Homo sapiens: one gene and its partner. The protein of the gene in region 1 purifies or fractionates together with the protein of each later gene. This does not show direct contact. Each region holds a gene or a part of one and is shown in the gene's direction. Other genes may lie near its edges.

Region 1 (3,652 bases):
TATTTTTATTATTATATTTTTGAGTGCAGTGGCACAATCTCAGCTCACTGTGACGTCTACCTCCTGGGTTCCAGCAATTCTCACACCTTAGCCACCCAAGCAACTGAGATTACAGGCGCGTGCCCCCATGCCCAGCTAATTTTTGTATTTTTAGTAGAGACAGGGTTTCACCATGTTGGCCAGGCTGGTCTCGAACTCCTGACCTCAGGTGATCCGTGCACCTCAACCTCCCCAAATGCTGGGATTACGGGCGTGAGCCACTGCTCCCAGTCCCACCCTTTGGATTTTATCACTTCACCAGAGTTAGTCACTGGGGGATTTTTTTGTGTGTGTCATCTATTGATTCAGTGAATTCTTTGCCAAATATTTATTCACAGCTAACTTTGTACTAGGCACTATGCTTAGGGCTGCATTCTGAGTAGTGAATGGGGTAGATATGGTCCCTGCTCTCACAGAGCCTATAGTCTAGAGGAGAAAGTAAACAATTAAGTAATTATAGTGAAAGTTGGTGCTTAAAGAACAACATACCATTGGATCAACTCCACAAGAACCTGGTTGATAAACCAGTTAGCAGTTTATTAACTTACACTGAGGGTACTAAGGTTGTTTGGTTAGAACACCCTGTCCTTTGGAGAGTGTTAGATAAACAAGCTTGTGCTTTTTGTGTTGCTTCCCTGTAGGTTTTGGTCCCTTGAAAAAAGTTCACTGTTGAGGTGCTGTGTTCCTTGGTCATACTGTGGTTCTGAGGCTGTACTCTTGTTATGTAGGCATGGCTTAGGTGATCCAAAATATCCCTTTGCAGCCCAGGTTATCTTTTAGAATGGGGTGGAGCCTGTGTTTGTTAGGGATTGCATTCAGCAACCAAACTACAAATGGCTTAAACAATAGGAATTTAGTTTTTCTCATGTAACAAGAAGTCCAGACCTGGACAGTTCAGGGCTTTGCTGTTTTCCTGCTCTGCCATTATTGGTATGTGGCTCTTCATAGTTACGATACTGCTGCCCCATATCTTCAGAAAAGAAGAAGGGGCAGCTTGTAGGGCAGAGTATAAAAGGTTAGTGTCGGCCAGGTCCAGTGGCTCACGCCTGTAATCCCAGCACTTTGGTAGGCTGGGGCGGGTGGATCATGTGAGGTCGGGAGTTCGAGATCAGCCTGACCAACATGGAGAAACCCCGTCTCTACTAAAAATACAAAATTAGCGGGGCGTGGTGGCACATGCCTGTAATCCCAGCTACTCGGGAGGCTGAGGCAGGAGAATCGCTTGAACCCGGGAGGCGGAGGCTGCCTTGAGCCGACATCGCGCCATTGCATTCCAGCCTGGGCAACAAGAGCGAAACTCCATCTCATAAAAAAAGGTTAGTGTCAGCTGAGTTTGAGTCCCCTCCTCTATTTTTTTTCCTTTTATTCTGAGAAAAATGCCTTTTCTTTTTCCTTTTTTTTTTTTTTTTTTTGAGAGGGAGTTTTTTTGTGGTAGAATTCTGGCCACTGAGATATAAGTAGAAGTTTACTGAGGAGGCCTTTAGAAAAAGTATTTCTCTCGACTGGGCACAGTGGCTTACGCCTGTAATCCCAGCACTTTGGGAGACTGAGGTGGGAGGATCACCTAAGGTCAGGAGTTCGAGACCAGCCTGGCCAACATGGCGAAACCCCATCTCTACTAAAAATACAAAAATTAGCTGGGTGTGGTGGCAGGCGCCTGTAATCCCAGCAAGCAATTCTCCCGCCTCAGCCTCCCGAGTAGCTGGGACTGCAGGCGCGTGCCACCACACCCGGCTAATTTTTGTATTTTTAGTAGAGACCAGGTTTCACCATGTTCGCCAGGCTGGTCTCGAACTTCTGACCTCAGGTGATCCGCCTACCTCGGCCTCTCAAAGTGCTGGGATTACAGGTGTGAACTACTGTGCCTGGCCTAATTTTTTGTATTTTTAGTAGAGACAGGATTTCTCCATGTTGGCCATGCTGGTCTTGAACTCCTGGCCTCAAGTGATCTGCCCACCTCAGCCACGCAAACTGCTGGGATTACAGGCGTAAGCCACTGTGCTCCGCCTAATGATTAACATTTTTATTGAGGAACTACTATGCATCAATTGTGTGCTAAGCACATTATGTACACTTGCATCTAATCTCCACAACATTCTCTTAAGGGAAATGGTCAGTAGGCAGTTGGAGATTTGGGAGTTTAAGACACTGCTTGTGAGGCAGTTACAAGTTACTTAACCTCTTTGAGTTTCAGTTTCTTAATTTGTAAAATGGAAATAATAATACATACTTCGTAGGTGTCTTATGAGCCTCAGACATCGTTTGTGTGAACTGCTTAGTTTATAATAAGCCCTCAACAAATAGTAACTCTAGCTATGGATGGTGGTGTTGAGAGGACAAAAATGGCAAGGACACAGGCTCCTTATTTTTATTTATTTATTTATTTGAGATGGAGTTTTGCCCTTGTTGCCCAGGCTGGAATGCAGTGGCGCGAACTTGGCTTGGGGCGATCTCAGCTCACCGCAAACTCTGGCTCCCGGGTTCAAGTGATTCTCCTGCCTCAGCCTCCCGAGTAGCTGGGATTACAGGCATGCGCCACCGCGCCTGGCTAATTTTGTATTTTTAGTAGAGATGGGGTTTCTCCATGTTGCTGGTCTGGAATTCCCGACCTCAGGTGATCCGCCTGCCTCGGCCTCCCAAAGTGCTGGGATTACAGGCTGGGATTACAGGCGTGCGCCACCGTGCCAGGCCTGTTTATTTATTTTTGAGGTGGAGTCTCATTCTGTCTCCCAGGCTGGAGTGCAGTGGCACGATCTTGGCTCACTGCAACCTCTGCCTCCTGAGTAGCTGGGTTTACAGGCGCCTGCCACCATGCCCGGCTAATTTTTGTATTTTTAGTAGAGACGGGTTTCACCATGTTGGCCAGGCTGGTCTGGAACTCCTGGCGTCACATGATCTGTCCGCCTCAGCCTCCCAGGGTGCTGGGATTACATGCATGAGCTACCACGCCCAGCTGACACAGTCTTCTGAATCTGCCAGTCCTGCCCTCCCTGATGCCTTCTGTGAGGTTTTGGAGAAAAATAGGAGCACAGACAGGCCCAGTGAAAGAGACTCTTAATTTCCATCTGGGGCTTTGGTTACAAACTTGGTGGTGTACTGCAGTCTGGTAAACTGTGGTTTATTAGAGTCAGAAGACTGGCCTGGGCAGGTCCAAGTAGCTACCTTTGTCCTTGGCCTCACTTCAGTTCTTTGCTGTGTTTGGCATAGGGGTAGAAGTAAGTCTGCGCATGGTGATGTGCCCCTATCATCCCAGCTACTGAGGAGGCTGAGGCGGGAGGTTCGCTTGAGCCCAGGAATTCAAAGCTACAGTGAGCTATAATCACATCACTGCACTCCAGTCTTGGTGACAGAGCAAAATCCTGTCTTTAAAAAAAGAAGGGTGTGGCCGGGCCAGGTGGCTCACACCTGTAATCCCAGCACTTTGGGAGGCTGAGGTGGTTAGATCACCTGAGGTCAGGAGTTTGAGACCAGCCTGGCCAACATGGTGAAACCGTCTCTACTAAAAATACAAAAAAATTAGCTGGGCGTAGTGGCAGATTCCTGTAATCCCAGCTATTCAGGAGACTGAGGCAGGAGAATTGCTTGAACCCGAGAGGCGGAGGTTGGAGTGAGC
Region 2 (3,652 bases), on another chromosome or scaffold:
GTCTGCAATGCCAGAACCCAAATATCCTATCTCCCCATTTACTGGGAGAATTTGTGGTAAATTTTCTGAATTTGTAAAAAGTCCATTCAGCAAATACATACCATGTGACTGCTGTCGTACCAGGCATCCATGTTAGGCTGTAGTATAGCAGTGAGCAAAAACGTATTATTCCTGCCTTCATGTAGCTGACAGCTAAGTTTCATATTTTTTGACTGATTTAATTAATATTTCAGATTGTAATGTATGCTGTGAAAATTCTGTGCTGAGCTCCTATTTATTCATTGAACATTTGTTGGAGGCCCTTCATTTTTTTCTTCAATGAAAATGACCCTGCTGGGGTTATTGCCAAGCTAGGAAAGGGTCCCTACTTTTTGAGCCCTCAGACTGAGGCAAGCAAAACTAGTGATTACAGAAAACAAAGTGCTTTAAAGTAGCAATGGCTGGTGTTTACCGAATGCTTTTTGGTGTTTACTGAATGCTTTCTGCATGTCAGGCACTCTTCTAAGCACTTTACAAGTATTGTTGCAATTTTCCCAAAAAATTGCATAAACAATTGGATAGATACTATTATTCTAAATGAGGTGAAGTCGCTTGTCCAAATTCACACAGTTGTCTGCCCCTACTGTCCCTTATGTGAACAGCAGGGCCCTGAGAGAGCAAAGGAGTTGGTGTTACAGGACCAGTCTAGATAGAGGGTTCAGGGGCGGCTCAGTCTGGAGGCACCAAGCACTGTTCCCAGCTTCTGGATGTGCCATTCCGGTCCCCTGAGACAGGTCCCTGATTTCCCTTCCCTCCTGGACCTCAGGCTCCTCCTACTTGCTCTAAGACCACACCTTGACCTCGCCCCTTTTTTCTCCATCCCTCAGCAAGCGAGACATTGAGTTGCTGCTGAAACTCATTGCAAACCTCAACATGCTCTTGAGGGACGAGAATGTGAACGTGGTGAAGAAGGCTATCCTCACCATGACCCAGCTCTACAAGGTGGCCCTGCAGGTGAGAGCGCCCTCCCCACCCAGGGCCATCCTGCCTGATATGTCTCGTTGACAAACTAATATGTTGGGGTTCAAAACCAGCATCCGAGCATACTCTTTATGGGCAAGATGTGCCACTGGTCTGTGGGAACAGATAACATGGAGAGCTAACGTTGTCTCCTAGGTCAGGAAGTTGCACTTAACCTTCATTCCTTCCATTGACCATCCGTTTATTCACTCAACAGACATTCCCTGAGTATGTCCTCTGTGCTTAGCCCTGGGCTAGGTGATGCTGGGGACACAGCAGTGACCAAGACAGCTTACTGCCTTCACAGTGCTCATAACCCAAGGAGGGAGGTAGACCTTAATTAATGAATCACATAAATATTGATTATGGAGTGTGATAGGAAAAGAACACTCTATGGTGTGATGTACATTAGCATTAATAAAACGAATGAATCCATTTAATCACCACCACCTTGTGAAGTCAGCACTGTTAGTCCTTTACCCTGAAGATGTGTGCCTTCATCACACTGAGTGGTCACTCTCTGCATCCCCATGAGGGCAGGGCGAGGCCTGGCCACTACTCAGTCCTGTCTCCAGCATCACCGAGCACTGGGCTGGGGCAGAGTTGGAACTCAGTAACTGTTAACCAAATGAATGTATTCATCATTCATGGTTCTCTGGGTATTGGCAGAGGGTGTTGGTGATTGATGCGTTGTCTTCACCTCTTTGTGTGTCTCTTCCATTCCTTCCTGGCCTGCTGGCAGTGGATGGTAAAGTCACGGGTCATTAGCGAGCTACAGGAGGCCTGCTGGGACATGGTATCTGCCATGGCGGGGGACATCATCCTGCTATTGGACTCTGACAATGACGGCATCCGCACCCACGCCATCAAGTTTGTGGAGGGCCTCATTGTCACCCTGTCACCCCGCATGGCTGACTCAGAGATACCCCGACGCCAGGAGCATGATATCAGCCTGGACCGCATCCCTCGTGACCACCCCTACATCCAGTACAGTGAGTACTGCCTTCAGCTGCCACCCCTGACAGCCCTGCACCAGTTTCCTCTCCTTCACGCCCCTCCCTCTCTCCCCCTTGTCTTTTTTGGTTTTAAATTTCTGGAACAGTGTGTGCAGTAGTTAAGATCCCTGGTGCTAGGTTCAGATCCCAGCTGCACTGCTTACTCATCATGAACTTGGGCAAGTTACCTGTCTCTGTACTTCATTTTCTTTTTTGTAAATTGGAGACGATAACATAGTACCACTCTCACAGGTTTGTAGTGAAGTTCCATGAGTGTGAGCCAGTCGATGCTAGCTAGTTTTATGGTTTTCTTTTTTTTTTTTTTGAGATGGAGTCTTCCTCTGTCGCCCAGGCTGGAGTGCAATGGCACAATCTCAGCTCACTGCAACCTCCGCCTTCCGGGTTCAAGAGATTCTTCTGCCTCAGCCTCCAAAGTAGCTGGGGCTACAGGCTCCCGCCACCATACCTGGCCAATTTTTTTAAAAATTATTTTTAGTAGAAGCAGGGTTTCACCATATTGGCCAAGCTGGTATCGAACTCCTGACCTTGTGATCCGCCCGCCTTGGCCTCCCAAAGTGCTGGGATTACGGGCTTGAGCCACCGCGCCGGGCAGTTTTACAGTTTTCTTAACTGCAAATTATAAAAGTAGGACATAGGCCAGGTGTGGTGGCTCATGCTTATAGTCCCAGCATTTTGAGAGGCCAAGGCAGGCAGATCACTTGGGGTCAGGAGTTCGAGACCACCCTGGCCAACATGGTGAAACCCCTTATCTACTGAAAATACAAAAATTAGCCGGGCATGGTGGCGGGCACCTGTAATCCCAGCTACTTGGGAGGCTGAGGCACGAGAATCGCTTGAACCCAGGAGGCAGAGGTTGCAGTGAGCTGAGACTGTGCCACTGCACTCCAGCCTGGGTGACAGAATGAGACTGTCTCAAAAAAAAAAAAAGTACTATATATACACTTGGTGTCAAGCAATATGGGTGAATCAAAAGGAATAATGTCCCCTCCCTCAGTCCTGCTTTCCAGAGATAAACACTGTTAAGAGTATTATGTTTCCTTTCAGATCTTTCCTGTGCACATGTAGGTATTTGTATGTGTATATGCATAGTGTCTGCATTTGTTTGCTTTTCTGTTTGCAAAAATGAGGCCATGCTTTGTGTTTTCATCTCAGAGACATTATAGTAGCTTGTGTCTGACACACAGCCTATTTTCCCTTGTCTCTGAGCCTGATTCCTCATTGGTAAATTGGGGATCGTTATTATGGCATCTAATTTAGGATGTAGGTATGAGCATTTGGTGTATTAATATGGCTGGAATAGTAAACATTCCATAAATATTAACTATTCTTATGTATTGTTTGACAGCCTTTTTGACTTAATAGTATCAGTGACGTCCTTCCCTGTGAGAATCATATAGTTGCTATACCATATTCCATAGTATAGTTACATTACATTCTATTAAGCAATGCTCTGTTGATGGTCATTTAGATTTTTAATTCACTTTTATTTTTTGAGACGGAGTCTCGCTCTTTCACCCAGGCTGGAGTGCAGTAGCGCTATCTCGGCTCACTGCATGCTCCGCCTCCCGTGTTCACGCCATTCTCCTGCCTCAGCCTCCCGAGTAGCTGGGACCACAGGTGCCCGCCACCACGCCCGG

What was found.
Region 2: the proteins of TUT1 (region 1) and SYMPK purify together in Homo sapiens (co-immunoprecipitation; one study listed by IntAct). This does not show direct contact.

The regions. Positions count from the first base shown.
Region 1 is NC_000011.10:62,584,892-62,588,543, reverse strand, and holds part of TUT1 (speckle targeted PIP5K1A-regulated poly(A) polymerase), read left to right. Parts: intron 1-3,652. UniProt on the Homo sapiens protein: Poly(A) polymerase that creates the 3'-poly(A) tail of specific pre-mRNAs. Localizes to nuclear speckles together with PIP5K1A and mediates polyadenylation of a select set of mRNAs, such as HMOX1.
Region 2 is NC_000019.10:45,846,091-45,849,742, reverse strand, and holds part of SYMPK (symplekin), read left to right. Parts: intron 1-866; coding exon 867-993; intron 994-1,741; coding exon 1,742-1,991; intron 1,992-3,652. UniProt on the Homo sapiens protein: Scaffold protein that functions as a component of a multimolecular complex involved in histone mRNA 3'-end processing. Specific component of the tight junction (TJ) plaque, but might not be an exclusively junctional component. May have a house-keeping rule.